Linked DNA regions of Homo sapiens: regions 1 and 2 are each linked to region 3. Evidence: fine-mapped expression QTL. A gene starts in region 3. Each other region holds a variant in brackets. All regions are shown on one strand. Distances are from middle to middle.

Region 1 (10,926 bases), 130 kb before region 3:
CATAACCAGGAGCCAATAAGCAATTCCTTTCCTGGTAGAAAATGCTAAAGCCATAAGACCCCACACATAGCAGGCTCCAGGGAAGATAGAGAACTGGAAAAGGACACAAAATGAGCTTGTGGAGAGGCTTTATGAGACTGGTGTTGCGGGAAAAGGTCACCACCGACCTCATTGGCTGGGCTGGATCAGTTTAACTGCACAGCATTGTTCTTTTTCTGGGGATGTGGCAGACACTGTTGGTTGTCTTGCCAATAACCATTACCCCATGACCCCCAAGCATGAGTCATGGCTGGTCTAAGCCAGCGTGGCAACCATGTTCTTCTTTGTCAGTCATTGGTCAAGGGGTGGGAATATGCCCTAGTTCTGACCAATGAAACATAAGAAGCTTACTGGGGGCCCTCAAGAAAGATTTTTCTTCCTGAAAAGACAAAGGTGGCCAGGCACAGTGGCTCATGCCTGTAATCCCAGCACTTTGGAAGGCCAAGGTGGGCAGATCACTTGAGGCCAGGAGTTCAAGACCAGCCTGGCTAACATGGTGAAACCCCACCTCTACTAAAAACAAACAAACAAAAAAACAAAATTAGCTGGGCATGGTGGCATGCGTCTGCAATCCCAGCTACTTGGGAGCCTGAGGCATGAGAATCGCTTGAACCCAGGAGGCAGAGGTTGCAGTGAGCTGAGATTGTGCCACTGCACTCCAGCCTGGGCAACAGAGTGAGACTCTGTCTCAAAAAAAAAAAAAAAAAAAAGACAAAAGTGTATAAAGAGAAATGCTTTTCTCTGCTCTCTGTCCTTTCTGCCTTTGAGTCTTGTAGTGTAAGGATATGATGCTGGTAGCTGCAGCAACCATCTTGTAACCAAGAGGTGACAAGGATGAAAATGTAAATGCAACATACTTTGCCAGAATAGAAAGACAGAAAGAGTCTGGGTTCTTGATAATATCACTGAGTCACTGAGCCATCCATAGGACCAACCACCTTTGGACTTGTCAGGTAAAAAATAAAAGTCCTTCTGACTTAAAACACCATTAATTGGATTTCCGGTTTTGTGTGAACAAAAAGCACCATAACTGATACAGGGGAAATGATCTGAAATCATAAAGTAATGACTAGATTTTATTTTTACCATGTATCTGCCCAAAAGTTATTTGACGAAGCTCACATCCACAAATCACTTAAAGATATGACACATCACCCTCTTGTCTCAGTGGCTCCTTGCTGCACTGGCTAACCTCTATCTTCCTTCACGATCAGCTCAACATCATTTTGTCATCTTTTGTGACCTCGTAGATGAAGTCAGTTCTTTCTACAGGACCTCTCTTTCGTAGCATTCATCACAATGGTTATGTAGTATGTTTTGTATCTGTGATGCTTCAAAGTCTGTTTCTTTCACTAGACTGAGTTCCACGAGCAGGGACCATGCCATCTTTATTTTTCTCACTATTAGTGGCAGTCTGATAGTTACATTAGTGATGATAATCATAGCATCATAGCTGCTGCCATTTCTTAAATACCTGCTGAATGCCAGATGCTGTGCCAACCACTTTACAAACATAACTTCATTTGACCCTGCAAGATATGTGTGATTGTTAACCATATTTCTTTTTTTTTTTTTTGAGACGGAGTCTCGCTCTGTCATCCAGGCTGGAGTGCAGTGGCGTGATCTCGGCTCACTGCAACTTCTGCCTCCTGGGTTCAAGCAATTCTCCTGCCTCAGCCTCCTGAGTAGCTGGGACTACAGGTGCCCGCTACCACACCCGGCTAATTTTTATATATTTAGTAGAGACGGGGTTTCACCATATTGGCCAGGCTGGTCTCGATCTCCTGACCTTGTGATCCACCCGCCTCAGCCTCCCAAAGTGCTGGGATTATAGGCGTGAGCCACCGCACCTGGCCTGTTATCCATATTTCAAAGCTGAGGAATTGAGGTTTAGCGAGGTTAATAACTTGATCAAGATCCACTGCTAGTAAAAATGGAAATGTGAATGGGACCCAGACCTGAAGGACCCCTCAAAGGGTCTCTTAAAGGATCTGGCTGGACACAGTGGCTCATGCCTGTATCCCAGCACTTTGGAAGGCTGAGGCGGATGGATCACTTGAGGTCAGGAGTTCAAGACCAGCCTGGCCAACATGGTGAAAGCCCACCTCTACTAACAATACAAAAATCAGCCAGGCATGGTGGTACATATCTGTAGTCCCAGCTACTTGGGAAGCTGAGGTGAGAGGATCGCTAGAACCCAGGAGATGGAGGTTGCAGTGAGCCAAGATCGCGCCACTGTATTCCAGCCTGGGTGACAGAGTGAGATTCCGTCTTTAAAAAAATTAAAAAATTAAAAAAAAAAAAAAAAAAAGAATCCGTGACGTGCCCTCCCAGGTGACTGGTGGCTGGAGCTTGCTTCATGCCCAGAGTATGAGCAGAATGGCTGCAGACAGAGTGCATGGAGAGAAGGTCACAACATGCAGGGCTGGTGTAGAAGAAAAGACATCACCTTGCTGTGTCACTGACCCTTGGCACTCTCTCTGGAGCTCACTCCCATGTGAGGAGAGGCAGGATATTGTTAGCTGTGTGCAGTTTCTATTCATCTACCTGAAACTCATCAGCAGCCTCACCTGTGCAGGCCATAACTGAGTGCCAGGAAACAAGCCAAGAGCTTTGATGGAGGAAAATAGGCCTGGCAATAAAACACCAGTCACAGACAGACAGACAAACACAGAACAGGAAGGGCCCGCAGTCTACTGCCTGTAGGAATCACTCCATTACACCATCAGGGAAAGGTGAAATGATCTTTAGTCAACTCTCTTTTTAAAACCCAGCATTCAGCCACTGTGGAAAACAGCATGGCGGTTCCTCAAAAAATTAAATATAGAATTAACCATATGATCCAGCAATTCCATTTCTGGGTATACACACCCAAGTTCATAGCTGCATTAATAAATAAAAGTCAAAAGGTGGAAGCAACCCAGGGATCTATCAAAGGATGAGTACAAAGGATGATGTATAGATACAATGGAATATTATTCAGCCTTAAAAAGGAAGGAAATTCTGACACGTCCTACAACTGAACGAACCTTGAAGACATTATGCCAAGCAATATAAGCTGGTTACAAAAGGACAAATATTCTATGATTCCACTTATATGAGGCACCTAGAATAGTCAAATTCATAGACAAAAAGTAGATTGGTGGCTGCCAGGAGATGGAGGAGGAGGAGCTGGGGAATTATTGTTTAATGGGTATAGAGTCTCAGTTTGGGGTGAAGAAGTTCTGGAGATTGAAGGTGGTGATGGTTGCACAACAATGTGAATGTGCTTAATACCACTGGACTAGATACTTAAAAATGGTTAAAATGGTACATTTTATGTTATATATATTTTGCCACACTAAAAAAGCCAATGTTGTCTTTAAGAAAAATTTATATTTACGTATTGCAAAACAACATATTGTATACAAGTATACAATTTTTATGTCAATTTTAAAAAATAAATAAATACCAAAAAGAGGTACAACTATGTTGTAACAATTTTAAAAATATAAAAAAAAATTTTTAAAATTTTAAAAATATAAAAAAATATGCTGAAGCTCTCGCTTCAGCAGCACATACAATAAAAATATAAAAAGAAAAACATTTTTAAAAAATTAAAATAAATTAGTAAATAATGTTTCAAGCAAGATTTTTTTTTTTTTTTTTTTTTTGAGACAGAGTCTCACTGTCGCCCAGGCTGGAGTGCAGTGGCACGATCTCGGCTCACTGCAAGCTCCGCCTCCCAGGTTCACGCCATTCTCCTGCCTCAGCCTCCTGAGCAGTTGGGACTACAGGCGCCCGCCACCAAGCCCGGCTAATTTTTTAATATTTTTTAGTAGAGACGGGGTTTCACCGTGTTAGCCAGGATGGTCTCGATCTCCTGACCTTGTGATCCGCCCGCCTCGGCCTCCCAAAGTGCTGGGATTACAGGCGTGAGCCACCGCGCCCAGCAAGATTTTTTTTTTAAAGAATGATTTACACATGAGATAATTCAACTGAAAACCATTTAGATTCTTAAAGAGGTTATCACCCAGCAATCTGGCAGGCAGCTATTCAAATACCACCCTTTTCGGCTGGGCGTGGTGGCTCATGCCTGTAATCCCAGCACTTTGGGAGACTGAGGAGGGAGAATCACTTGAGTCCAGGAGTTTGAGACCAGCCTGGACAACATGGTGAAACCCCGTCTCTACTAAAAATACAAAAACTAGTCAGGCATGATGGTGCACGCCTGTAGTCCCAGCTACTAGGGAGGCCGAAGTGAGACAATCACCTGAGCCTGGGAGACAGAGGTTGTAGTGAGCCAAGATTGCTCCACTGCACTCCAGCCTGGGCAATAGAATGAGATTCTGTCTGGAAAAAAAAAAAAAAAAAAA[C/AC]CTTCTCCAAATGGTTCTTTTTAGCAGACGTTTAACAGTGGCTCTTTGCCTTCTCACCACCCTTTTGTCATATTTCCTCATGTGTGTGCTTCTCAGATATTCACTCACTCACTTATTCATTCACTAAATATTTATTGAGGACCTACTGTGCATCCTATATCTGGTACCATGATAGGTGCTCTGACATGGCACCCACAGGATGGACACAACTTAATCTGGTAAGGCCCAGAGTGTCCACTAAAGCTCTGTGAGGTCAGATGACAGGACTGTCAGAAAACAAATCAAACGATCTTTCTGAGTGCTAACTTGTGAAAGAGTTGGAGCCCTGAGCAGGTAAGACTGAAACCATGAAAGATCAGTGACCCCAGGTAGTACATTTTGATACCAGCTGAGTGCACAGATAGTAAGTTTCAAAAAAACTGGAGAGGCAACAGGGTGTTAAGGCAGGAAGTCCTGTTCCTACAGTTTAGGAAATCCAGGTCCTGAGAAGTAGAAAGTAGCTGCTCAGGGTCACATAACCAATATGAGTGACATTGCCAAGCCTGGACGTCACGTCTCTTGGCTCAGTCGAACCCGTGGGCTTCACACCAATTTTTGAGAGCACTCATCATGGTACCAGAATCAGGGATCCTGGAGCCCAGCACAGGGGATGAACCCACATCTGATTTGGCCCTAGGGCTCTACCTGGGCAGGCAAGGCAGTCGCAGTTTCTGTGCTTTGCACTACTGCCTTAATAATTCATGCCTTAAACTGATGATAGCACTCTCCATGAGGAGAAATTGTGCCCAGATGAGGAGCAAGAACAAATCCTGGCCAAGAATCTTTTCTTCAGTAGGATTCTGCCTTGATCTTTTTTCCCCCAGTTTAATTTCGATGACATCAAATTCCTTTAAAAATAGATTTCATATTAGATTTGAAAATTACCCACATCCATCAACCTCCTATTAAACGTAAATGGCTGTATCCTGGGCTGAAGATTTGTAATGCTCAGATCACTCAAGAGACCTCAGGCTTCTAATAACGGACTCCAGATTTTTAAACCCAATTTCTTGGCTTCCTTCATCCACATAATGCTCCAGAGAGACAGTGAGCACTCGCTTCCGTTTACAGCTGTCTGCCCTAATGGACTGAGTGCAAGCATGAAGTCAGGGGCCGCTCCTGCAGGCTGACCTCAGGAGTCAGGGTTGGGTTCACAGCAAAGACAATGGAAAATGTAACGATGAGGCGGGACGTTGGGCGAGGGCTGATGAGGACACTGGCCTTTAGGAACAAATTTCATTTTTCTTGGATGAAAAAGTAAGAACCCTGGCTAAAGAGGGGCTATACCCACTGAATATACATGGATGAGCATTAGGGACTCTGGTCGGGGCCACAGCTTGCTTGCAAACAGGCCCACCTGGGGACCAATCTGTAGCGCTCAGACCACTCCAAAACGGTCACTCCCTCTCTACTCGCTCTTCCTTTCTCAGTCTTCTCCTTCCCATGATAATGATGCCTGCATTGCATTGGATCTTCTCTTATTCCAAGTGCCTCTCCAGGAAGGGTGTGGAGGGAGTAGCAGAAATTAAGGGACTCAGATGGTTGGTAAGACATGCAGAACGTCAAGAAAATGTCCTCCGCCCATGGCCCCAAGCCTAACTTGTTTCCTTTTTCCCCTCCATTAGTAACACATGAGGAAGCTTGCAATGAGCATCTGAGCTGAACCAGATCTAATCACCGCCCACTGAAGAGCTTTGGGTCTGCAAATTTGAGTCCACCTGGGAGTGATTTCCCCTGGGTGCAGCCAGTCCCTCACACACCCACTCCTAGCAAAAGGTGTAAATAGCACAGAGGAGTGGCCAGACCAGAAAAGTTGGCCCTCTGACCTATTGCAGGCATGTGTGGTCTTATGAAAAATAGCTTATCTAATTGTTTTCACATTCTGAATGCTCTCCATTAAAATTTTCATTTAATGCTTGAATGTGTGCAGGGTTTGTACCCTCACAAGGCAGTGAGAATAGTTTTATAAGACAGGCTCCGTTTCAAAATCCAGGATTTGCAACCATCTGCCACTATACACAGTTTAGCACTTGCTAGAATGAGTATGAAAGTTAATCTGTGCTATGAGCAGAATGTGACTCATCTGGATTCAGTTAAATAGCTCATGGTGCTTTTCAAAAAAGATATATGTGAAACCTTTCAAAACGCAGTCTTGCCAGGCAGAACACTGCTGTACACACCATCAGGAAGAAATGGGTGAAGGAACATACAGAAAATTACATCCCTCAATGGAAGCTCCAGAGAGTTCTACGAATGACATTGTCAGCAGACCCCAAACAATTCAGTGTGCATAAGTGTGGACTAACTAGGGAAAGACTTTCTGAAAAAAAATTCACAACTTGCACGCCTAAAAAAGGCTATCTTTCTAACAAGATTGAAGAATTAAAAAAAAAATAGCTTCAATTTCTCCAGGATGATACATCATAGAAAGATTCACTTACTCATTCCCATTCAGCAAACATTGTGCACATCTATGAGTGCCAAGCACTCTTTGAGCTTTTGAGAATTCAGCAGCGAGAAAAAGATAATCGTCTCTGTCCTTGTGGGCCGTCCATTCTAGCAGTCTCTCAGGAATGGTTTGTCTTAAGCAGGTGCCCTCTGGGGCCTGTGCTCAGATCCCCAATCATGCCCTTTGATGTGCTAGATGACAGGCATTTGAGGCACTCAGTACATCCACAATATCAACCCGCTGACACCCTGTACCCCTTGAATATTGCTGGGATGTCCTAGAGTCTCATTTTTCTTCTTCTTTCCTATCAAAGGGAATAAAGCTGCAATGTCCTCCCTCTTAGCATCCGTCAAGTGTCTTATCTTGTAGGAGTAGAAGAAACCAACTCCTTCTACCTCTCATCTCTGGGCCCATTCTTTTCTTTTTCCAAGACCCCAATGCTATGGGAATAAGGGGGAGGGAGACTGCACCTGCATTTCACATAGGTGGGAGCTTCAGCTTGGGTCCACTTGGCTAATTGAATCTAATGGCCAGACCTATTCAATATTTAAAAATCATCCACATAATAGGATCTAGTGAGCCAAAAAGTAAAATAAAGGGGAGAATAATGTTAATAGACACAATGCTGAATACAAGCACATCTTGCTTAAGATTTGCACGGAAAGGAAAACTAACTAGAGGAGCATTTAGCAGAACAAGCCCTTCTCCAACTCCCACTGTAACTTACTTCTGCAGGTTTTCTTATCTGGATTCAGGGTAAAGCCTTTCAGGCAGTGGCAGGAATAGGAATCATCTGTGTTAACACACTCGTGCTGACATCCGTGATTAGATGAGGCACAGTAGTCTATCTCTGGCAAGAAGGAAAAATCACAAGAATGGCAAACCAATCAATAAAGCTAGCATAGGAAAACCAGGGATTTCCAGTCTTCATTTTCCCAAACAGGTAAAATCCCACACCTCAAAGAGTCACACCATGAAGGGGTCTCCCAATAAAGCTACTTCCATGTTTAGAGATATGGCCTCTCCTAAGAGAAACTTCTTCTCCTTCTTTCCTTCTTCTCCTTCTTCCCTCCTCCTCCCTCTTTCCCTTCCTCCCCCTTCTCCTTCCTCTTTCCCTTCCCCCTCTTCCCTCTTCCCCCCTCCCTCCTCCTCTTCTTTCCCTCTTTTCTTTTCTTTCTTTCTTTCCTTCCTTCCTCTCTCTCCCTTCCTTCCTTCCTTCCTTTCCTTTCTTCCTTTCTTCTTTCTTTCTTTCTTTTTCTTTCTTTCTTTCTTTCTCTCTTCCTTTCCTTCTTCTTCTTCTATTATTATTATTATTATACCTGGACTCTTCTGCTAGGCAAAGACAAACTTCCTGACATATTACAAAACGTTTATGCAACAAACAAATTTGTGAACATGCTTTCCTTGTCTTGATTCATGTAAGAGCCACTAAAATGAAGATGGGGTATTTGCCAGACTGCAGGCTGAGAATGGTTTAGCTGAGTGTTTTATCGAATTTAAGCAATTAAAACAATTAAACGTTCCCAAAGCCAAACTCCAAACCACTTAAACCCATCAAACAATGAGCCAAACAATAAGACACAAAATCATATCCTGGGAAAAATAAGGCCTAGGAGTGAAAGGCATAAATACTCTGAGTTCAAAACACCTCCTGGTTACCTCATTGGGCTCAGCTGCACATAAATAGGATTTTTACCTCAAGATTCACAGAGAATGTGATCTCTAGGGATACATTAATTTAAACCAAAATATTTTTTTAAAAGTATTTCATGAAATTTTTCATAATGAAATTTTACTTGTGTATTTTTATTTTTTTGTTTTTGTTCTTTTTCTTTTTTTTGTATTTTTTGTATAAGTATTTTTAAATATGGAAAGAAACTTTTATTGCAGAATCTGAGCAAAATATTTTCCCATAGTGGAACTTGGACACATTGTTTAAAATTGCTTGAAATAAATGACCACTGATGGAATCTTAAAAGGAGTCTTTGTTTTGATGAGGGTTTTTATTATTTTAAGGAACATTTGAACTGCATAAATAATCTTCCTAACAAATAATTTGGTATAAATGAGAGTTCCCAGTCCATACCAGAGGAAACAAACTGAGTAAGGGAAAGATATACAATATTCTTGAAAGGAAAAAATGTTGAGTGAGATGCCAATTTTTCCCAATTTAAACTTATGGAAATGTTAAGCAAAATATACAATAATGTCCAATTTCAAAAATGGACTGAGTAGTATAATAAATCCATGTACATATCACCCAGCTTCAGGAGAATCAATCTATGGCTGCTTGGCTTTCAGCTATGTCCCCACTCTCTATAGTAAGATCCCACATTACTTTGAAGCAAACCCCAGACATTGTATTGTTGTTATTATTATTATTATTATTATTATTATTATTGTTTGTTTTGAGACAGAGTCTCGCTCCATCGCCCAGGCTGAAGCGCAATGTCGCAATCTAGGCTCACTGCAACCTCCACCTCCCAGGTTCAAGCAATTCTCCTGCTTCAGCCTCCTGAGTAGCTGGAATTACCAGTGCATGCCACCATGCCTGAGTAATTTTTTTTTTTTTTTTTTTTTTTTTGAGATGGAGTCTCACTCTAACACCCAGGCTGGAGTGCAGTGGCGCAATCTTGGCTCACTGCAACCTCTGCCGCCCAGGTTCAGGCAATCCTCCTGCCTCAGCCTCCCAAGTAGTTGGGATTACAGGCGCCTGCCACTGTGCCCAGCTAATTTTTGTATTTTTAGTGGAGATGGGGTTTCACCATCTTGGCCAGGCTGGTCTTGAACTCCTGATCTCGTGATCCACCTGCCTCAGCCTTCCAAAGTGCTGGGATTACAGGAGTGAGCCACCACACCTGGCCCAGACATTGTATTATTTTGTCCATAAATGCTTCATAATGTAGCTTTAAAACACTGGGAGTCTTTATAAACAATATAATTGTAATACCATAGTCATATATAAAGGCATTTAAAAAATCTTTTTCTTTGAAAACAATTTCAAGCTTACAAAAAGTTACAAACATAAAAATAAAACAAGAAACACTTAAATACTCTTTACCCAGATTCACCTTTGTTAACATTTTACCCCATTCCTGTGATTACTTGGTCATCTCTCTGACCTATGTGAGGGTACATTACATACATTCTGGTCCTTTCCCTTAAAAACAGTCCGTGTTTCCTAAGAGGAGGGATATTCTCTTACATAACTGCAGTATGGTTATAAATTTCATAAGTTTACATTGATACAATACTTATATTTAATCTACCATCCATATTCTAATTTTGTCAGTTGACTTAATTATGTTCTTCATAGCATTTTTCACCTTCCAGTACAGGATCTAGTCTAGGGTCAGAGATTGTATCTCGTTTTCATATCTGCTTAGTCTCCCTTAATCTAGAACCATGCTGCCTAATATGTCTATTTAAATTAAAATTGATTAAAATGAAATAACAATTAAAATTCAGCCAGGGGTGGTGGCTCATGCTTGTAATCCCAATGCTTTGTGAAGCTGAGGCTGGAGGATTGCTTGAACCCAGAAATTTGAGACCAGCCTGAGCAACATAGCAAGACCCCATTTCTGAAAAAAGAATTTTTTTTTTTTTTTGAGATAGAGTCTCGCTCTGCTGCCCAGGGTGGAGTGCAGTGGCACGATCTCAGCTCACTGCAATCTCCGCCTCCCGGGTTCAAGCAATTCTCCTGCCTCAGCCTCCCGAGTAGCTGGAACTATAGGCACACACCACCACACCCAGCTAATTTTTTGTAATTTAGTAGAGACGGGGTTTCACCGTGTTGCCCAGGCTGTTCTCGAACTCCTGAACTCAGGCAATCCACTCGCCTCGGCCTCTCAAAGTGCTAGGATTACAGGCGTGAGCCACTGTGCCCAGCAGAAAAATAATTTTTTTAAGTTAGCTGAGCATGGTGGCACCTGCCTGTAGTCCCAGCTACTAGGGAGGCTGAGGCCAGGAGATCTCATGAGCCCAGGAGTTGGTGATTGCAGTGAGCTATGAGCTATGACTGTACCACTGCAGTCCAGCCTGGGC
Region 2 (10,926 bases), 62 kb before region 3:
CATGGACAGCCTCTAGGGACCTCAGTACAGACACCTATTATTTAATCTGGTACCTGGTTTTTCTAGAAACTGCCCTTCCTTCTCACTCCAGACACCTTGCATCGGGGAGCTGCCGTGGTGGTCTGAGGTAGTCTCACTCCTGGCCACTGTTGGTTGGTACAGGGTTTGACAATCAGAGTCCTTTACTGGCATTTAGGAACCAGAACTGAATAAAAGGAGGCTCAAACTGAGAACAAGTGAGCCTCAGGGGCTGGTGGGGCCATGCTTCCTGACTGTGGACTGGAGAAGGAGAGGAGTGGAGGGGAGATGCAGTGAAAGCAGGACTCTCACAACTGCCATCCTTATTTCCATGGATAATATAATGCACTCCCCCCTCCTTTTAGAAAAAAATGGAATTCCTGACACTTTCAACCAAAAGAATCTCAAACACCTTCACTAAACTAGAATAAAACTTTCCCATCTGTAGAATGCTGTGGGTGAGTGCTGAGTGACTTTCAGAGCATCCAGGCCTCATGCCTTGCCCTCTGTGGGATGGGCCTTTGCGGTGAGAGCCAAGGGGAGACCACAGCCTTGCCTCCTCCACCGGCCTGCTGGAAACAGTCCTATGAGCCTCATTTCTCAGAAGGCCCTCTGGGTTTACACTCAGCCAAGGCCTTGTGTTCAGCGGGGAGGAATAACTAATCAGCAGCCTAAGTCATTGGTGGGATTGGATTTGTTGACTAGGAAATAAGAACAGTCCTTTTTTTAATGATTGTATGAATGACTAAAGGAGTGGTCAGTGTAGGGAGGTGGGCTGGAGGTCTTGTATTACTGGGCACAGTAGACTCAACGTTTGTGAAGTCAGTCCAGCCTCCCCACTTCACATCAGGACCTCAAAGGGGTGCCATCAGTGTAGACTGCCCAGGCCAGTTCATGAAGGGTGTGTCCTAGGAATACTATTAGGGCCTTAAATTGTGCCTGGCCTGGGTGGGGTGGGGCTATTAGGGTAGGAACAGCCTGGCTCCCTGCTCCAAAATACCAGATGAGGCTGATAAAGTCAGCACCTAGAGGTTAATTAAAAGCAATCTCGCCCAGGTGGCAAGAATCACCAGAACACTGGGGACAGCGTTTTCAGCCCATAGATTCCATGTTTTCTCTTACTGGGTGGCAAAAATGGCAGACTCCAGGATGTGTGGGGTTTGGTCATCTTGTAGACAGGACCTCAATTCACAGGGCACCTGGCCTCTCCCTGGTGGTCTCAAGGGTGGCCTGAGAATGCAACCTCAGGATTCCCCTTGCTGTGGCTGGTATGGGAAGTCCCTGCCTGCAAGTATAAAGCCTCCACTGTGCTCAAGATTGTACAGCCAGACAGCCAAAGAGAAAAAAGCCAGGACTCTCACCCAGCGAGGTCTGGCTGCAGAGTCTAATCAATTCCTCACTGTATGATAAAGGTCCTGCCTTGATCACACCCAGACAGAACCTGTCCCAATCTGCAGATGTAGCATTGATTTTCAGTTCTGCCTGCAGAATGCCTAGGCTCACGTCTCAACTCTACCACTTACAGGCCAGGCACAGTGGCTCATGTCTGTAGTCCCAGCACTTTGGGAGGCAGAGGCAGGAGAGCTGCTTGAGCCCAGGAGTTCAAGACCAGCCTAGGCAACATAGTAAGACATTGTTTCTTTTTTAAAAAGTAAAAATTATTCAGTCATGGCGGCGCACACCTGTAGTCCAAGCTGAGATGGAACTTTGAGGCGGTAGTGAGCTATGATCATGCCACTGCACTCTAGCCTGGGTGACAGAGTGAGACCCTATCTCAAAAAACAAAATAAAACAAACAAATAAAAACAAAAAAACAAGCTCCAGCACTTACAGGTTTGTGACCTTGGACAAGTTATTTAACCTCTTTGGTTCTCAATTTCCTCTTCCATAAAATGGGAACTATAAGAGCATCTACTTGACAGGTTTGTTGTGTGAATAAAGTGAGTTAACATACACTAATAGCCTGAAACAACACATGCATACATTAATATCAAGAAATGTTAGTGATTATTAGTATCACCTCATCTTTAAAGCTCTCCTGGAGCCCCCAGGCAGACCCTGACAATTTCCAGTTGTGTAAAATAGGGATAATAGAGCCAGGTATAGTGACATGTAGTCCCAGCTACTTGGGAGGCTGATGTGAGAGGGTTGCTTGAGCCCAGGAGTTCGAGGCCAGCCTGGACAACATAGTGAGACCTTATCTCTTAGAAAGAAAAAAAAAAGATAATGATAGTACCTATCTCAAACGGCTATTTTAAGTATTAAGTGGAATACTGTATTTGAAAGTACCTAGCACAGGACAAGATTAGCTATTATTGGGGTACAGTTTGTGAAAGGAAAATAAAATCTCAGGATCCCAAATCACTATGCCAAAAGGAAAAAAATTAAGCTAAAAGCTGAGTAATGCAAGAAACTGCCTTTGCTTTTGTTCCTAAGCAGATAGCTACAGATAAAAGGTTAAATATCTGCATAAGTAGCTACTCTATGTTCACCTTATCTTATGTAAAGTGTTGATTTACTGAGCACTAGAGGAATACATGATTGACTGTTCCCCTACCTGCTCCTTTTCTCTTGCAACATGTGGATTCAGTAATGTGACCATGCCCTCCCTCTCTCCCTTTTAAATACTGAAGCTCTCAAAATCATCTTTGGAAAAAGGCACAGACCACAGATTGTTCCTGTGATTTTGTGTTCCTTTTCTCCAGGCATGTCCTTAACCTTGGCAAAATAAACTTTTACATTGATTGGGACTTGTCTCAGATACTTTTTGGTTTACAGGTTCAATGAATGTTTAAGGAACAAATGAGACTTCCCAAACCTCAGAGATGTCATCTGCAACTTGGAAAATGCTCACCATTTTTGTCTGATCATTTGAGTGCAGATCAAAACTGAGGCCATCTGCCTAGCCCATCGGTCCTCAGTGTATTTGATTGTAATAATACATAACACAGTGCACACTGAATAGGGCTCTACCATTTACAACACCTGTTCACTCATCTACTTTCTGCATATAAAATCCCCATTTTACAGATGAGGCAACTGAGGCTCAGAGAGCACAAAGGATTTGCTCAAGATTGTACAACTAGAGTCAGCTCCTCTTCCTCCTACGAAGGCTGCCTTCAGAGTTTCACCTATTTTAGGTGAATGCCAATTGCAAAGTAGGTTTACCTGGCCAGGCTGGACTGTGGAGGTGGCCACCAGAAAATGGTTTACCTTAAAAGAGGAATTTGTAATTCCCAACATGCAGAGGAGTGAAATGAGCAAGAGGTTTGGAATTAGCATCCAACTATCTCTTGGCTATTTGTTTTTCAGGTGATTCACTTAGCAAGTTCCTTAACCTGTAAAAAGAGAGTGGCAAGAGTGTGCTGCCTGCCTCCTGGGGCTTTCTGCGATAACATAAGGGAAAGTGCTTTATAAATGTTAGTTACTACAGTCTTTACCATGAAGTTGATAAAGAGGCCCTGGGGCCTCTTCAGCCTTTCAAGACGGCTGCTGAGTCTGCTGAGCAAAGCCGGGCAGTGCAGTGCAGTGAGAGACAGCAGCCCTGTCTCCTGCAGAGTGGATGGGGGGACTCACAGGGGATTCATTTCTCAGGCACAGGAACAAGCGGGATAACGCTAATGTTTTCTTAGAGCTTCCAGATTATAACAAAGAAGATGAAGGGAGGAAAAGTCCAAACTGCCTTTTCATTTTGCTGCCTTGCCAGAAAGCACACAGAGATGGTTTTTCCACAGACAAGTCCACATTGGTATATCCTATTCGACACCAGGATTGCGGGGGTGGGGGGAGGGGGGCGGTCAGTCCCATTGTGTAGCTCCTCAGCCTTATCATGTTATCTTTCCATTTTCTGATAAATACAGAAGGCTTATAAAAAGAACCCCTCCATTAAAATTTTCCAACACAAATGAATAAGCTGTCAAAATGGTTACAGAACCAATTTCCCTTTTAATATTTTCAGGAAAGGGGAAACATAAATTCTGCAGAAGTCATTTAAAGTCATAAACCTTGAAAATGTTTGCAGTGTGTTCTGCTGATTGAAGTGTTCCAGCTGACTTAGGCCACAACACACCACAACAACACAGCCTCTGCAGTGCCAGGGAAATGGCACTTCTGAACACTTTCCAAGTGGCATGGCAAGGAAAAAGGTTCTTTTTTTCTTCATGGCATTGATTTCTTAAGTAAATCTTTTGATTCCGGAGTCAAGAACAAATGAGATCTCTGTGCTTTTTGAAGTTAGTTCTCAGCAGGGGATTTTGTTTAATACACATCAAAAGCACATTGTTCTTCGCTGGGGGCTATATCTTAGAGGTCTAGAATATGTCACATTCTGAGAACCCCCTCCTGGGTGCCCTCTCCTGGGGAGTTGGTGCTGAGTCTGGCTCTAAAGCTCATTCTCCACTCTGCTCTAGGAAGATATTTTACATTTTACAAATAGATATTTACATATAGATAATTTACAAATAGATATTTAAAAATAGATTATTTCCCTTTATTTCCCCACCAAAGATTCATGGTAGCTGGAGGGGACAGGGACCACTGGGAATGGACAAGTCAGGGTGGGACATTGTTTACCAAATCAGGATGCGAGTTTCCTGGATTGGGCGGCTGGCCCC[C/G]TGCCCTCCCGGAGGAGGAAGGAACAAAAAGGCAGCCGCAGAGGCAGGAAACTGGGGAGAATGCAGGCTGACCTGCTGAGAAGAGTGGGGGCAGCAGCAGGGGTAGAGATAACTGGAAAGTGCGTGGGAAGGAAGGGAGAGAGAAGCCCTGTGAAAAGAGGGTTAGAAAGCAAAAGAGGAAAGAAAGCTTCCAACATAGAAGAATGCAGCTCAGGGGCTCCGAGAGGCATCTTCCTGCAGAAAGAGTTGGCAGGTGAGGAGTGGCCCCTACAATCTTAACAGGTGGGGAGCTGCCAGGACCACACCTTGGTCCTCTGTATACGCTGGACCTCTTTGTCAGCTGAGAAAACATCCCCTGCCAGCACCACCATGGGGCAAAAATGCCTTGGTATTCCACACCATCCAAGGAGAGATTATGTTACTTTTTCTGCCCTTCCATTCCTATCCGTACTCCAACTCATGAATTCCAACTTAGGGAATTCCAGGGCAGCTCCATGTGCTGAAGAAAAACTCTGTCTATCTACTCTTCCTCATTCTGTGGTTTGGGCTTACGTGTCCCTTCCCCAGGGCAATCTCCCTGAGCATCCAGGCCTAGATAAGGTCCTGGGGTTGCACACTCCTTCATGTCCTGAATTCTTCCTCCATTACACTGTGACAACTATAGTTACTTATTTGTATAATTATATATTTAATGTCTGTCTTAGCTGGGTGCTCATGCCTATAATCCCAGCACTTTGGGAGGTTGAGGCAGGAGGATCGCTTGAAGCCAGGAGTTTCAGATCAGCCTGGGCAACATGGCGAAACGTTGTCTCTACAAATAGTTAAAAAATAAGCCAGGCATGGTGGTGCACACCTGTAGTCCCAGCTACTCATGAGGCTAAGGCAAGAGGATCACCTAAGCCCAGGAGTTTGAGGTTACAGTGAGCTGTGATCATGCCACTGCACTACAGCCTGGGTGACAGAGCATGACCCTGTCTCTAAAAGATAAATAAATAAAAACATGTGTCTCTTGGCCAAAGTGTAAGCCCCTGGAGCACGTTGTGTTTATCTTGGCCTTTGTTGAAAACCTATTGCCAGCACAGTACCTGGGACATAGTAACACAGAATGAACACTTGAAGATGAATGAATGAATTCTAGTGGTTCCTCTAGAAGAGTGACAAAGGAGCAGGACTTACTGCACAACTTCTTCTGGAACACGGAGGTCAGCGTCTCAATCTGGCTGAAATTGGCCACAAGGAAGACATGGTCCTCATGGGGCTCACTCCCAATGGACTTCAAGGTGTTGAAGTCTACCTGGCCCACACCAATGGCAAAGATTAGGATGCCCGTGTCCCGTGCCTTAGCAGCCACCTCGGCCACGGAGTCCTGAGGTCTCCCATCTGTCACGATCATTATGACCCGTGGCACATTCTCCCTCAGGGGCCGGGCCCCCTCTGCTTCTGAGAATGCGATGTTCAGGGCATACTGGATGGCCAGCCCAGTCATGGTGCCCGTGGACAGATGCCGCATCCTCTTGACAGCACGCTCCACCTCGGACTTCCTCTTGAAGGTCTTGAGGGAGAACTCATTCTTGACAGTGCTGCCATATTGGAGCAGGCCCACTCGGGTGACATCAGGACCAATGTCCAAGAATTGCAAGATGTCCACGATGAACTCCTTGACCTTTGCATAGTCATGGGTGTTGACACTGCGAGAGCTGTCAATGATGAAAACCAGGTCTGCCCGCTTGTTCTCACAGGAACTCTCTGGGGAAAGAGGAGAGGTCAAATACATTAGAAGAGAGGCCAGGTGTGGTGGCTCACACCTGTAATCCCAGCACTTTGGAAGGCGGGTGGATCACCTGAGGTCAGGAATTCAAGACCAGCCTGGTCAACACTGTAAAACCCTGTCTCTACTAAAAATACAAAAATTAGCCGGGTGTGGTGGCGGCACCTGTATTCCCAGCTACTCGAGAGGCTGAGGTAGGAGAATCACTTGAATCCAGCAAGCACAGGTTGCAGTGAGCCAAGAGAGTGCCATTGAACTCCAGCCTGGGCAACAAGAGTGAGACTGCATTAAAAAAATAAAAATAAGAATAAAAACATTAAAAGAGAGTTAAGGACCCAGGGCAGACTGGCTATTGTTGGAAATCCTGGGACTGATGATCACCTTTGAAACCTCCTTCATCAATTTTCCTCCCCACTCATGAAAGTTATAAGGGTATATTTGTGCATGGCTGGAAGATCATGACTACTGGCTATAATCAGATAGCAATCCTTTTTGCAAGATAAATGAATATATTAGTTTCTAGAAAGTTGCCAATGCAGTTTTTATGTAACCAAACACCTGATCAGGGTCAAAATTATTTTATTCTTTACTGCATGACACATAAGCTTGGCTGGGCACTGCAGAGAATATAACAGAAGCTTAGGACAGGGTCCAAAGTTAAGGAGCTTCTAATCTACCTGGGGAGAATTAACTAATAAAACCATGAAAGAATAACTGGCATGAAAACTGTGTCGTCCTGACAATAGCTGCTAAGAGAATAGGGATATGAATGGGCTGGGGTCAAGGAGATGGGACGTGAGCTGACCTTATAGATGCGTGGTGTTTGGATTAGAGAGAAGGAGCACATCGAGTGGATCACATGAACCAAAGCCCAAGACGGAATGAATGTGGTGGGTAACAGAATAAGTGATGAGACCTTGTAGTAGAGGGTATACTAGGAGTTGCAGGCAGGAATTAGTTGGACAGATGGCCTGAAGCCAGTTTAAAAAGACCTTTCCTTTCAGACTGAGAAATATGTACATGATGCCACCAGTGAGGGGCATCTTAGCATCATATTATGTAACTCACCTCTCCCATAGGGAAGTTACATAATGAAAAGTCAACAGAGTCTGGCAGTGGTTTGCAAGATGGATGGTATACACAATTTCTGGACTAATCTCATTGAGAGGGGGACTCAGATCTAATCCTAGGACAGTAGTGGAAATAGAGAAAAGGGGACCTGACTAAGAAATATTTCAACAAAGGACACAGTTAAATTGGAAAAAGGCAAATGTTAAGTCCCTTACCACCATGACTACCATAATTATGCCTTAAGCTGCTAAGCAAGAAGACTGTAAAGGTTTGAGTCCATAGACAAACTCATCCCTTTTGCGTTTCTAGTACGAGGGTGATATTGGATGAGATGAGAGGCCTCCAGCTTTAGTGGGTGGAGGCTGGGCATTCCTGTTGGGAGTTTCTCGGATATTCTGAGCTACTGCCTTTCACCAGGGTGAGTCCCTCCTCCCCCATTCTCTACTCCCTTCCCGGACTTTGCAGCTGAATCAGGATTTGAAAGGTATTAGAAAAGGGATCCCAAATGCTTGCCCTAAATCCTAATCACCACAGCTGCAAGAAAGAGAGAGAAAGCCAAAATGAAACAGTAAAGCTAGTCATAAAAATGAGAAGTGGGAAAGGCCCATGAAGTCATCCTGTCCAGGCCAGCTTGCCAGGCTGTGACTCGTCCCTGAGTGCCTGCACACACAACTCATCCTTGCCGCCTCACAAGTCTAATGATTTTAGGGGAGGAGGCACCCACAAATACCAGTAGCCTGGCAAGAAACCAACGTTCTGACATACCCATGCATAACCCTGAGGGCTGGGTGAGTCCAGGGTGAGTGTCTCAAAACAGAGGCCCCAGAAAGTGAGCCTTTGAGGGTTCAGCGATAAGATCTATATGAAACCTAACATTTCCAGAGCACTTTGTCACTTGGTGTGATTTGATTTTCAGAACAAGTTTTTGAGAAAGGATCAAGAAGCATCATACCCATTGCATAGATGAGAACATGGGAGCACTGAGAGTTTGAAATCTTTCATAATTTAGAAAAAGAAAAAAATATACAGAGGTGCAACCAATATCCACCTCGTTGGGCAGCTGTAAGAATTTAAGGAAATGATGTAATGAAGGATCCAGCACTTGGGAACTCCCGACGTGTGCTGGCTGCATGTACAGGCTCTCCCCACCCCTCCATCAGCCCTCACTCGTGTCCAGCCCCAGGCTGGGTAGGGGCAGGGTTACAGCTATGGCTATGTGGTTGGTGCTGCACACAGGCACCTGCTCAAGGAGGTGAGAGGAACTGAAATCCAGCCAAGCCCTGAGCCCCAGGGGCTGAGCCACCCTAAGAGGCACCTTAAGGGGGGTGCTTTTCAGCCAGGTGCAGTGGCTCACGCCTGTAATCCCAGCACTTTGGGAGGCCGAGGCGGGAGGATCACAAGGTCAGGAGATTGAGACCATCTTGGCTAACATGGTGAAGCGCCAAATCTACTAAAAATACAAAAAATTAGTCAGGCATGGTGGCACGCACCTGTAGTCCCAGCTACTTGGGAGGCTGAGGCGGGAGAATCACTTGAACCCAGGAGGCGGAGGTTGCAGTGAGCTGAGATGGCGCCACTGCACTCCAGCCCAGGTGACAGTGCAAGACTCCACCTCAGAAAAAAAAAAAAAAAAAAAAAAAAGGCAGGAGTGCTTTTCTAATTTTCATGAAGGCTCCTGTGGTTTAGCATATAGCCCTGGGTTGGGGCAGTAGATGATGGATCTGCAGATCCCAGGAAGGAGGACAAGGGGGAGCATTCCCAAGACCCAGGCAGGCCCTCTCCAAGAGCCACACCTGCCCGACCCTTCATGTCTGAACTTACTGCAGGGAGAGTGTGACCCAATAATCTTTACCTGCTGAGAAGAGGGGCCAGGCTTAGACCCTGCCATGGAGGAGGATATTAATTAAGGCACCTTTGAAGGGAGGGAAATTCACACAAGACTCGCACTCTGAGAACTCTCTTCCTTTGGAGATCTTTGGAAGTAGCAGAGCCTCCTTGGATTGGGCCTTTATTATGGGTCTTAGTCATGGTGTCAATATCTATCCAAGCATCACAATCAATTTAAAGGGAAGCCTGGAAGTTCCATGGAGAATTGTGTGCTAAACTGGATTCTCTCCCTTCAAAACAAATGGGTAGTTTCCACAACACCTGCACATGTACAAAAACGCCACAAAGGTTCAAAATGTTGTTGGAGGTTCCAAGAAAGCTGTAATTCTGAGTTGAAAACACCAAGTCCTGGCAGCCCAAGTAACTGAATTTTCTTCAAAATGTGTCCTTGGGTCCCTTGAGGGCTCAGAACCACAGTCTCATAGCTTGTCCCTGAAAGGGCTAGTTCAATGGTTCTCAAACTCAAGTGTGCATCTCAACTCTCTAGAGGACTTGTTAAAAACTAAGACCAGGCCAAATGCACAGTGGCTCATGCCTGTAATCCCAGCACTTTGGGAGGCCGAGGCAGGCAGATCACCTGAGGTTGGGAGTTCAAGACCAGCCTGACCAACATGGAGAAACCCCATCTCTACTAAAAAAAAAAAAATAATAATAATACAAAATTAGCTGGGTGTGGTGGTGCATGCCCATAATCTCAGCTATTCAGGAGGCTGAGGCAGGAGAATCGCTTGAACCTGGGAGCTGGAGGTTGCTGTGAGCCAAGATCATGCCATTGCACTGCAGCCTGGGCAACAAGAGTGGAACTCCATCTCAAAAACAAAAACAAAAACAAAAACAAAAACAAAACAAAACAGAACAAAACTAAGACCAGTGCACCACAACCCCAGAGCTTCTGATTCTGTAGGTTTCCATTTCTAACAAGCTCCCTGGTGAAGTCAATATTACTGGTCTAGGGACACACACAGGTCAAAGAAATAGAGAGCTCTCTGGAGAAAAGAAGTTCTATAAAGTCTTGACCTTGCTATCTCACTGGGAATTCCCCAAGGTTAGGAAACTAGTCTCATTTATCTTTGTAGGCATGCAGTTGGAAACACAGAAAGTCTTCATTCAACATCTGTGGAATTAAATGGAATTCTGGTGGAAGCAAGTCTTCAGGGAAAGAGATTGAATCAGAGCAGTTAGTACAAAAAGATGATGACAAGCACGAAGCCAAAATGTTCTAGAGGAGATGTGGTCCTGCTAATGGAGTCATAGATTCTAGGACCCAAATCTTTGCCATTTTATGAGGGACCATAACCACTTCTGAAGTTTGACTCATGGAATCACAGACTAGTAGAATCTTAGAGGCAGAGGGGTCCCAACAGAGTCCAAGTCACTCATTTTATAGAAAGGAAAACTGAGGCCCAGAGAGTTGACTCTATCTCTGCAAGGCCCTCATGGCTCACCATGGTCAGACCTGATGCCCTTTCCATCGTCTCATGGCAGGCACCCTTAGGAAATTATCAGTACAGCCAGCATTATGATAGGAGCTTTGCAAATACCTGGGAACACTCTAAAACATTTGCTGTG
Region 3 (10,926 bases):
GCCAGGCATGGTGGCTCGCGCCTGTAATCCCAGCTGCTCAGGAGGCTGAGGCAGGAGAATCGCTTGAACCCAGGAGCCAGAGGTTGCAGTAAGCTGAGATCACACCACTGCACTCCAGCCTGGGCAACAGAGCAAGACTCTGTCTCAAAAAAAAAAAAGTAGAAGAGGTCAGGGCATGGTGGCTCATGCCTGTAATCCCAGCACTTTGGGAAACCAAGGCAGGAGGATTGCTTGAGCCCAGGAGTCGAAGATCAGCCGGGCAAGATAGAGAGACCCTGTCTCTACAAAAAATTAAAATTAAAAAAAAATTTAGCCAGACATGGTGGCACAATCCTTGTAGTCCCAGCTACTTGGGAGCCTAAATAAGAGGGTCACTTAAACCCGGGAGACTGAGGTTTCAGTGAGCCGTGATCGCACCACTGCATGATAGCCCGGGCGACAGAGCAAAACCTTGTCTCAAACAAAAAAAAAAAAAGAAGAAGAAGAAGAAGAGGAAGGCAGAAGAGAGATCTGAGGTGTGGCAGTGAGAGAAGGATGCAGCCTGACATTGCTGGCTTTGAAGATGGAAGCAAACCGAGCAATGCGTGCAGCCTCTGGAAGTTGGAAAAGGCAGGGGAACAAATTCTCCCTGCTGACACCTGGATTTTTAGCCCCATGAGAACCATTTCAGAATTGTGGCCTCCAGAACTGTAAGATAATAAATCTGTGTTTTAAGTCACTAAGTTTGTGCTAACTTGTTACAGCAGCAATAGGAAACTAGTACAGACACCGTCTGGGAATCTCAGGGAGGTCAAACGTCACTAGAGTGATTTGCTTCACAGAGATCTTGCTCTGGACATGAGGGCATTTTTTCTATTTCACTAGAAATGGAAGAGGAGAAGCAGCTAGAAAAGTCAACAAATGCTGTTGATGGGGCAACAGTGACTGTTCTAAGGGCCAAAGTTGAGGGTTACTGGCCAGGCGTGGTGCCTCACGCCTATAATCTCAGTACTTTGAGAGGCTGAGGCAAGAGGATCACTTGAACTCAGGAGTTCGAGACCAGCCTGGACAACATGGCGAGACCCTGTCTCTGTAAAAAAAAAGTTTTTACAAAAATCTAAAAAAGAAACAAATTTGAGGGTTACTCAAGGGGAGGGAGAAAGCCCAAAAAGGACAGGAAGGAGCCATTTCTGAACTGAGTTTCAAGAAGCATTTGATCCATAGCCTTGACCCCTCTGGTCTTGAGCTTTTGGTCTTTAAGACATGTGAAAACAGCCAAGCATGGTGGCTCACACCTGTAAACTCAGCACTTTGGGAGGCTGAGTCAGGTGGATCATGAGGTCAAGAGTTTGAGACCAGCCTGGCCAACATGGTGAAACCCTGTCTCTACTAAACATACAAAAATTAGCAGGGCATGGTGTTGCAACTTGGGAGGCTGAGGTAGGAGGATCACCTGAACCTGGGAGGCAGAGGTTGCAGTGAGCAGAGATTGTGCCACTGCACTCTAGCCTGGGCAACACAGAGAAACTGTCTGGGAAAAAAAAAAAAAAGAAAAAAAGAGATGTGAAAACAAACTCACCTAACTGGGAGGGTACAGGGAGAAGCCCTAAACAGAAGTGAGCTAAAACTCTTTGATTTAGATCATTTTCTCTAATACTCTAATATTTCTTTCTTTTTTCTAAATAGTTTTTCTTACCATCATGCCCAATCTAATACTCTAATATTTCTGGCAGATAGAATAATATGTCAAAGATGTCTATGGCCTAATCCCCAGACTGTGTTGCCTTACATGGCAAAAGGGACTTTGGGCCGGGTGCGGTTGGCTCACGCATGTGATCCCAGGACTTTGGGAGGACAAAGTGGGCAGATCACCTAAGGTTAGGAGTTCGAAACCAGCGTGGCCAACACGGTGAAACCCCATCTCTACTAAAAATATAAAAAATTAGCCAGGTGTGGTAGCTCATGGCTGTAATCCCATCTATTTGGGAGGCTGAAGCAGGAGAACACTTGAACCTGGGAGGCGGAGGCTGCAGTGAGCCAAGATCACGCCACTGCACTCTAGCGTGGGCGATAGAACGAGACTCTGTCTTGAAAAAAAAAAACGGGGGGACTTTGGAGATGTGATTAACTTAGGAATTATGAGATGCAGTGATTAGCCCAGATTTTCTAGGTATGGTTTTGTAAGAGGGAGACACGAGAGTCAGGATGGGGAGAAGGGTTGGAAGATGCTGTTACTGGCTTTGAGGATGGAAGAAGGAACCAAGAGCCAAGAAATGCAGTCAGGTTTTAGAAGTCAGAAAATGAAAGACATTTTCCCAAGAGCCTACAAAAGGAACCACAGAGCCCTGCTGACACCTTGATTTTAGCTCTACAAAACCCATTTAAGAGTTCTGAACTTCAGAACTGCAAGATAACATCTTAGGGTTGTTTTAAGCCACTATGTTTGTGAAATTTGTTATAGCAGCAATAGGCAACTAATACAACAACATAAAATAACTACAGGGTATCCCCATGGGCAGTGAGCCCCACTTTCCATAAGTAGATAAAGGTTCCTCTGACAGTACTTTTAGAATAACTTTCCAAAAATGTTAGCTGATCCACCTGCTCAGCCGCTGATTTTTACATGCAGGTATTTTGTGAAATTTTCCATTTCAATTGACTCACTTTGAGTACTTTACACCCTTCACACACTGTTGGATAAATTCACATTAATTATTTCATTTAACCCTTACAACAACCCTATGACATAGTATCACGCCCATTTGACAGATGATATAAACCAAGGCTCAGACAATAATAGTAAGTATAGCTAACAAATATTGAGCATTTATTCTGAGCTAGGCACTGAACACCTGTTAACTAATTTAATTCTCCCAAAAAATCCAGTCTTCATTTACAGATGAAGAAACAGATGTCAGGCACAGAGAGTCTAAGTAACTTTCCAAAATCTTTGCAGGTATGAGGGGCTAGAACTGCAACCCAGGTCTTTCGGGTGCCAAGAGCAGTGTGCTTTGGGTTGTACCCCAACTCCATCTCATCCATGTCAAAGCCACTGTCATAGTCATTAACACCAATTACTGGCAACAGCCCAGCCCTGCCATTCCATCTGAGCCCCCTTCAGGCAGTATTGGCTGTCTGCCGAGCCACATGGCAGGGTTCAAGGATGGCCTCATGGGCTGAAGCTCCAAGTGGCAAGTGGCCCCTTGGAAGGACCTCCCTGGCACCATTCACTAGCAACAGCAATGACATTCCCCATTCTCCCCTTGGCATATGCTCAGCCTCCCTCTTTCCCTGGCCCTCCTGAGTTATCTTGCCATATGCTTTAAACAGGGGAGTCCTCCATAGCTTCCCTAGAAGACGGGGAATCCCTGGAAGGGACGCTCCTGCAGGTGCTACAGATCAGAGGGCAGTGAGTGCCAGGGGCAGCACTAGAGGCTCTCTGCCAACTTGACTGGTCTTAAACCACTCACCTCTCCTACTGCTTGCCCAGCCTCATACCCAACACCTTGCTCAGGCCAGCGTTAGACCTGTCACACCCTCTTCGGCCTGCTTTTCCTGAGGCCTAAGCCGGTCTCTCCCCCTTTTAGTCTCCCCACCTCACTCCTTGCCCTCTCTTAGGTGCCAGTCAGAACTGTTTCTAAATAAACTGTAGAATTATTTTTCCAGAACCTCCAATGGCTCTCTTATTTCAAAGAGCAAACATCTCTCCTTTTCTTTAAATCTCAGGCCACACTTTTAACTACCTTTTGCTAAACAAGGACATATGGCACTCGCTGATAAGAGCTTAGGGCATGACAGCTGCTCGAGGGTGTTTCAGATTTGGACTCTGCTCTGACACCTCCAACAAGCAAGCTTAGGCCTTGGTGGCCCTGGGTTGCCTGGGAACAAGAAACCCCAGAGCCCCGATTTATAGAAGACAGTGTCCTGGTAACTCGGGGGCCTGAGATTGAATTCTATTGGCAGAAATAAAAGTAAAAAGTGTGGACAGATAGGAAAATGCAAGGTGAAGAGCCATAAGTATCTCATTCTCCACAGAGGATTCTAAGTGCCAAGTTTCAGGGACTGAGAGGAAACATTCCAGGTCATAAACCCATGTTGGTATTTTGACATGGTTTTATGAGGTTGGCCCTTTGGGAGCAAGCAGGGAGAACTGCGCCCGTGTGGACTCCTGCATGGAACTACCAGTTGCATACACGTGGCTTATCTGCCACCCTCACGTACCCATGGAGAGCCTCTCTTTCTGAACTGGGGAAGAGGTACATTCACTGCTCATAGCAGCTCCTTGCTATTTCTGCAAAGACAAGCCATGGAACTCACCTAATCTTAGAATGCTCCTGGAAATGTTCTAAGGACTTTACTTGCCATATCTTTTTTTTTTTCTTTTGAGACGGAGTTTAGCTCTTGTTGCCCAGGCTGGAGTGCAATGGCACCATCTCCGCTCACTGCAATCTCTGCCTCCTGGGTTCAACCGATTCTCCTGCCTCAACCTCCCGAGTAGCTGGGATTACAGGCATGCGCCACCAAGTCCGGCTAATTTTGTATTTTTAGTAGAGACGGGGTTTCTCCATGTTGGTCAGGCTGGTCTCGAACTCCCGACCTCAGGTGATCCGCCCGCCCCGGCTTCCCAAAGTGCTGGGATGACAGCCCTGAGCCACCGTGCCCGGCCGCCATATCTCATTTAATCCTCACAGTTCTGTGGGTATTACCATCCTCATTAGACAGATGAGGAAACTGAGGCATACTTGGGTACCTTCAAGTTATCAACCCTGTAAACTTCACAGCTGGGGTTGAAACCCAAGCAGGCTGACCCCAGTCTCTGCTCTCGACCACGGGTCCCTGAAGTCTCTTGACTGCCCCATTCCTTAAAGGCCGATTTTAAGTGTGCTTGGTGCAGATGCATTGTGGCTTCCTGATTTATGACAAATTGAAACTTGGTCAATTGGGTTTGTTCAGGGTGGGCGCGAGTGTCCCTGAGGAGAGCACTTTCCTGTGCCCCCAGTCCTGGAGACCCTACCAGGGACAGTCCCCATTTCTCTGTCCTCTCCCCAAACGGCTCCAAATTGTTCTGGGGTTTCTAGCAACTACCACAAAATGCCTTCCCCTTTCTCTCCCTCTTCCACAATATAGGGAAGCTGGAGGTTTAGCTGCCATAGAGACCCAAGAACAAAATCCAGATGACACGGGCATGAAAATACCAGGTTCCGAAGAGGGAAGGGGGAGCCATCGGCTGTCCGTGGAATAGGAATCACCCTGCATACCCGCTCAACAGGTCTCCCTTTCCCTGGGTCGCGGTGGCCGGGGTCTGGGCGTCCCCGCTGCGTGCCACAGCGCCCCCACGGGGCACTCCGGGGCGGCTGCAGCGCGGCTTGTCCTGCGCAGGGAGCGCGCCCAGCTCTCCCGGCCGAGGGGTCGGGCAGCGCCGCCCTCCCTCTCCCCCTGTCCTCGGAGGGGTCGAAGGCGCCGGGGCCCCGGGGCGCTGGGGGCTGCAGTGCGGGCCTGGGGAGGGCGCCTGCGCGTCGGGCAGCCCAGGCTCGGTATTCTGTCGGTGGGTCGGTCCGCCTGCACTTCGAGGCCGCCCGGCCGCGCAGAGCCGGGGGAAAGCGCGCCGCGCTCACCTGCAGCCGCCGGCGCCTGGGAAGCGAGGCAGGGGCGCAGCCACCCGGGTCTTCCTCGTCGGCCTCTTCGCCTCGCCGAGGGCCGCGGCTCTCCTCGGGGATCGCTCGTGGGAGGCGAGGACGGAGCCCCAGCTTCTGCCTCTGCCTCTGTCTCCGCCGCCGCCGCTTGCTCCAAGTCCCATCCCAGAGCGCTCCCTTCGCTCGCTGGCTGCCTGGGAGGCGCTGGGCAAGGGCGGGCGGCTGGGGAGGCGGTGCCGCGGCGGGGGTGGGGAGCGGGCCGGGCGGAAGGAGGGGTGTCCTCTTTGGGGATGGGGAAGGCGCGGAGAGGGAGCGGCGGCGAGGGCGGCCCCACCCTGTGGGCAGCCCCGGGAGCTGGGCACTCTGGCGGCGCGCCCTGCCTGCTGCCACCTGGCTCCACTCCGTCCGTGCCTGAGCCCAGGCGGGCATCAGACTCCAGGGGTCCGGAGCCGCAGGCACGGAACACAGGCAGCTTTAGGGGCCTGTCGGGTTGGGAGTGCGGGGAGGGGTCTTCTGGGGGAAAGGAGACATGGCAGGAATCTTACATCTAGAACTTGGGGTCATGACCTGCGGGACGCACCCACTGACGCGGGGATGGAGAAAAAAGTGGTGAGAATTGGGCTAATTGATGACAAGCGCCAAGAGCTGTCTTGCCAGTGCCCAGAGCACCCCACCAGTGCCAGTTCATATTAACAGAGCGTCCACTGGCTGGGGACCAGGCCCCGGGATGGGGAGGAGGTAAAGATGCCAGGATGGAGAGGAGACAAAATTCCTACCCCGAGGGAGCAGGGAAAGTCTAGTTCAGACAAGACTTTTGAAATTATGAGCAGAGACATTTGCAACTTTGCAGAATGGAGGAACCTCACCTTGGATGTCCCCATGGAGCCTTGGAGGGATGCAGAAGACAGGATTGGCCAGCGACAGTCAAAGTGGCCGGCACCCCCCTCTACCAGCTCCCCAGTTCCTGGAGGCTGGGGTGAGTGGATGTATAACAGACCAGGACATCTCCTATAAAGCTCCAAAATTCTGTTCCCAAACCACTAGCCAACGCACCCAGTTCAGGTTTTGTGTTTTTGTTTGTTTGTTTGTTTTTTGAGACGGAGTCGCCCAGGCTGGAGTGCAGTGGCGCAATCTTGGCTTACTGCAAGCTCTGCCTCCCGGATTCACGCCATTCTCCTGCCTCAGAGTAGCTGGGACTACAGGCTCCCGCCACCACGGCCGGCTAATTTTTTTTGTATTTTCAGTAGAGACGGGGTTTCACCGTGTTAGCCAGGATGGTGTCGATCTCCTGACCTCGTGATCCGCCCGCCTCGGCCTCCCAAAGTGCTGGGATTACAGGCGTGAGCCACTGCGCCCGGCCCCAGTTCAGGTTTTAACAAGCTACCAGCAGAGGCAGCAGCACTAACTAGTTTCAAAACCTCTGGATGTGCCACAGTCTGATAATTTGGTGCTTTGGGCGGACTTTGTTTTGTAATTAACCATCATTCCTATTTGATGATAGAGTTGATTTCTGAAATATGAATAAACGCCAAAATCAATTCTTCAGAAAAGCTCCAGGAGGGGTAATTAAAATTCCAGCCATGAAGCAAGGGGTTAACATACTCGAGCCATCAGGCAAGTCAATGATACCTTAATACCAAGAAAGAATTGTGGATTCCTGTTCCTTTACCCAGTACCTTAGGCCCACTGGGCACTCTTGGCTGCCTGCACTGATCACAAATAGTTTTTTTGTTATGTCTTTGGGAGGAGGTAGGTGGAGGTCAGAAAGCAGAGGAAAGTCTTCAGGAAATGTTTGGTCTCTGAAGTCTTGGATCCCATAGAAGAAAATTCTTCCTGAGTCTGGGCCAGTGAAAATCCCCTAGGAACTTGGGAAGTTGAGCTACAGTTTATGGAAACTTAAATTTAAAATGTGTTGACTTATTCCAAGACACCAGTGTGATCCAGTAATTTACCAGGAAAACAATAACAATCCCCAAACCCTTCCAAATTGTAAGGAAATTGTAATTTAGTAACTGATTCCAGTGACTCTGGTGTATGCCAATTAAAATGGGTGTTTTCCCCCCAGGGAGTTCTATTGGAATTCTTCAGAATAGTTAATCTATGTACAAATTACACTTGGGGCCAAGTCAAATAGGTTAAATGAGTTGTTCTACCTTGTGGGATGATCTTCAGGTCTGCCAGAAAAAAATGAAGGAAAAGCAAGTTCAATGTCCTGAAATATAAAGGCAGAACAAACAATGAAATGATTTCTGGGTTACCTTCAGGATGAATTGCAAGTTGATAATTAAGACTATAGATTAGGAAAAGGCCAAAATTGCCTTTTCTGCTAGAGGTCCTGCCATGTGCTAGATGTACAGAGAACCTTATTCAGAAGTGTGGGTTTAAGATTTTTAGTTCTGGGACTGGGCGATGGCTCACACCTGTAATCCCAGCACTTTGGGAGGCTGAGGCGAACTGATCACTTGAGGTCAGGAGTTCTAGACCAGCCTGGTCAACATGGTGAAACCCCGTCTCTACTAAAAATACAAAAGGTAGCCGGGTGTGGTAGTGGGCGCCTATAATCCCAGCTACTCAGGAGGCTATAATCCCAGCAACTCAGGAGAATCGCTTGAACCTGGGAGGCGGAGGTTGCAGTGAGCTGAGATTGTGCCACTGCACTCCAGCCTGGGCAACAAAACTAGAGTCCATCTCAAAAAATAAAAATTAAGAATAATAATAATAATAATAATACAAAAATTATCTGGGTGTAGTGGCATACGCCTGTAATCTCAGCTACTCGGGAGCCTGAGGCTGGAGAATCACTTAAACATGGGAGGCAGAAGTCGCAATGAGCCGAGGTTGCACCACTGCACTCCAGACTGGGTGACAGAGTGAGACTCTGTCCCAGAAAGAAAAAAAACAGATTTTCAGTTCTTATGTGGGCACTCATGTAAGCAGACAAAAATGAGGTATGTATTATCTGAGAACTCCTAAGAGCTCACAAGTTAACTGGAATTGGTATCTGTTTAAACTAATCACAACCTGAGTAGCTATACTTGGGATCAACTCTCAGTTCTCGATCTCCACGTAGTCTATTGTGGAGTAAGGATTTGGGTCAGGAGAGTCATTTGACCCAGGCCTCACACTCGTGAACAGCCTCGAATATAGACTTTAAACATAAGCATCCCTTTGCTCCTTGTAAACATTAGAACTTTTTGTTTTGCATTAGAATCCTTCTTACTTGAGACCTAGCTATCTGGCCTAGAGGGCAGATTGAAATGAGACTGTCAAATCCAAAGGGGACCAGAGTACAGTATAAGGAAACTGAAGAAGAAACAGGTTGCCTCACGGACCTATAAACCTAAAATAAAGCTCTACTGAATGCATGAGGAGACATGTAAAATTGCAATGTCATCTCACGTGCACTGTTTCCCTAGGTGACAGACAGTGTTTGAGTCCTATGTAAACTATTAGAGCTCCTCCCTGTCTCCCTCAAGTAGAAGGCCAGGAGAGGAAACATCTTCATATCCGGCCAGCTGCCCATTTGTTGGAGCTGGAGATGCAGGGTTAAGGGAATGTTCCAAGGTAGTGGATGAGCTTGGACTCCAGCCCAGGGAGGGGAACCCTGTAGGCAGGGCAGAGCTCCCTTTGGGATACCCCATCTACATGGACAGTTGGGTCCATGTCCAGAGGGTTCCTTTGAGGACAGGCTGACTGATGGCACCATTGTCCCAGGTGACATAATTTCTTTTTTTTCTTTTTGGCATATGAACATTTATTACTACAGTGTTTTCACCATTAAAATTTATGATCTTGGTCTTTCCTTCTTGCCTTTGTATAGGGCCAAAAGAAAGACACAGGCTACTTTGACAACCTGAAAGCGAACTCCAGAAATATCACCAACAGCATGACCTTTTTGACCAAATCCAGCAACCAGAGCTTTATGGTTTTCCACAATAAGGTTCAAGCAACCATCACTGAATACAAAGGCTGTGATTTTCTTGCCATCCTTGATCCACTGGACCCTGACACACTTCCTAATGGCAGAATTTGGCTTTTTGGCTTCAACTCCTACTTTTCCCAGCACAATTCCTTTTGCATGAGAAGCACCTCCAAAAGGGTTGGCCTTCAGGGCTGTGCCCAAATGGGCTTTCTTGTACTGTTTATCATGCCACTTCTGATCTTGTTGGTGACTACAGAGACTCCTAGCAGTATGAGGTCCACGACACTTGCCCATCCTGCAGTGCTACGGGCCTGAGCAAAAGAGAGAAGCAGCTGTCCCAGGTGAAGTAATTTCTAAATAAACATATCCCATCTTGGAAAGACAGGATGAAAGTGATCAGGAAAAAAACTACAGCAAGTTGAAAATTTGTTCAAGAAAACAATACTCATTTCAAAGGGGACTCAAATGTTTTTATGTGATTTTGACTTGGACCATGAGCTCCTGAGGACAGGGACTGGGCCTTTTGCTTATTTATAGATCTTGCCCTATGCCATGCTGTAGAAGGGACTGGGTTACACCGGCTCTAACCAGGATTTTAGAGCCTTGTAGTTTTGTGGAATCAGATTGATGCAGCTTCCTATCAAGGATGAGATAAGGCCTGGCACAGTGGCTCATGCCTGTCATGTCAGCCCTTTGGGAGACCTAGGCAGGAGGATCACTTGAGCGCAGGAGTTTGAGACCAGCCTGAGCAACACAGTGAGACCCCATCTCTGCAAAAAATTTAATAATTAGCTGGATTAATTTTTTAAAAATTTAAAAATTAGCCTCCCAGCAATTTGGGAGGCTGAGATGGGAGGATCACTTGAGCTGGGGAGGTCGAGGCTGCCATGAGCTGTGATTGCACCACTGCACTCCAGACTCCAGCCTAAGCAACAGAGCAAGACCCCGTCTCAGATTTTAAAAGAGAGATAATAGGCAGTTGCAGTTGGCTGTAGTCCCAGCTACTTGAGAAGCTGAGACAGGAGGATCCCTTGAGCCCAGGAGTGTGAGCCTGGCTTGGGCAACACAGCAAGACCCCATCTCTACAAAAAAAAAAAAAAAAATTAATGTAAAGAATGAGATAATAAAGTGGGGAGCCTTAATGCATAGGCAATAGTGAGCACAAATATGATTTGTTTTCTTGGATACTGACAAGGCTGAAACACTGCCTGTCTACCTGCAGACTAGGTTTCACTTTGGAAATGGAGGATGGACCTGCTATTTATGGAAGCATCGCTCAGCAACACAGATTGCTGCTGCTTTCATTCCTAAACCTAGAAATTGGCACAAAGTGGTCGGCTATTAGGAGCCGATAGCCTCATCCTTGTGACACTCAACTAACTACCTTCTCTC

Which allele goes with the higher level. Positions count from the first base shown, and alleles are read on the strand shown. Sizes are in standard deviations (SD) of each study's normalised expression. Not every link is listed here.
With allele C in place of AC in region 1, the expression in iPS cells of the gene that starts at base 5,818 in region 3 is higher (moderate effect, 0.68 SD a copy in HipSci).

What was found.
Region 1: its variant is fine-mapped to the expression of MATN2 in iPS cells (HipSci, PIP 0.95).
Region 2: its variant is fine-mapped to the expression of MATN2 in lung (TOPMed, PIP above 0.99).

The regions. Positions count from the first base shown.
Region 1 is chr8:97,991,286-98,002,211 of GRCh38, reverse strand. MATN2 (matrilin 2) reads right to left here. Exons shown (of 19, transcript NM_002380.5): 7 at 7,610-7,732. Among named protein-coding and RNA genes, the nearest start is that of SNORA72, 45 kb to the left of the region's middle. The variant C/AC (reference allele first, on the strand shown) is at 4,395.
Region 2 is chr8:97,926,404-97,937,329 of GRCh38, reverse strand. It overlaps MATN2 (matrilin 2), which reads right to left. Exons shown (of 19, transcript NM_002380.5): 3 at 5,808-6,377. Among named protein-coding and RNA genes, the nearest start is that of MATN2, 63 kb to the right of the region's middle. The variant C/G (reference allele first, on the strand shown) is at 4,632.
Region 3 is chr8:97,863,956-97,874,881 of GRCh38, reverse strand. MATN2 (matrilin 2) reads right to left here and starts at 5,818. Exons shown (of 19, transcript NM_002380.5): 1 at 5,595-5,818. It also overlaps the pseudogene RPS23P1. RefSeq lists an enhancer at 6,218-6,717.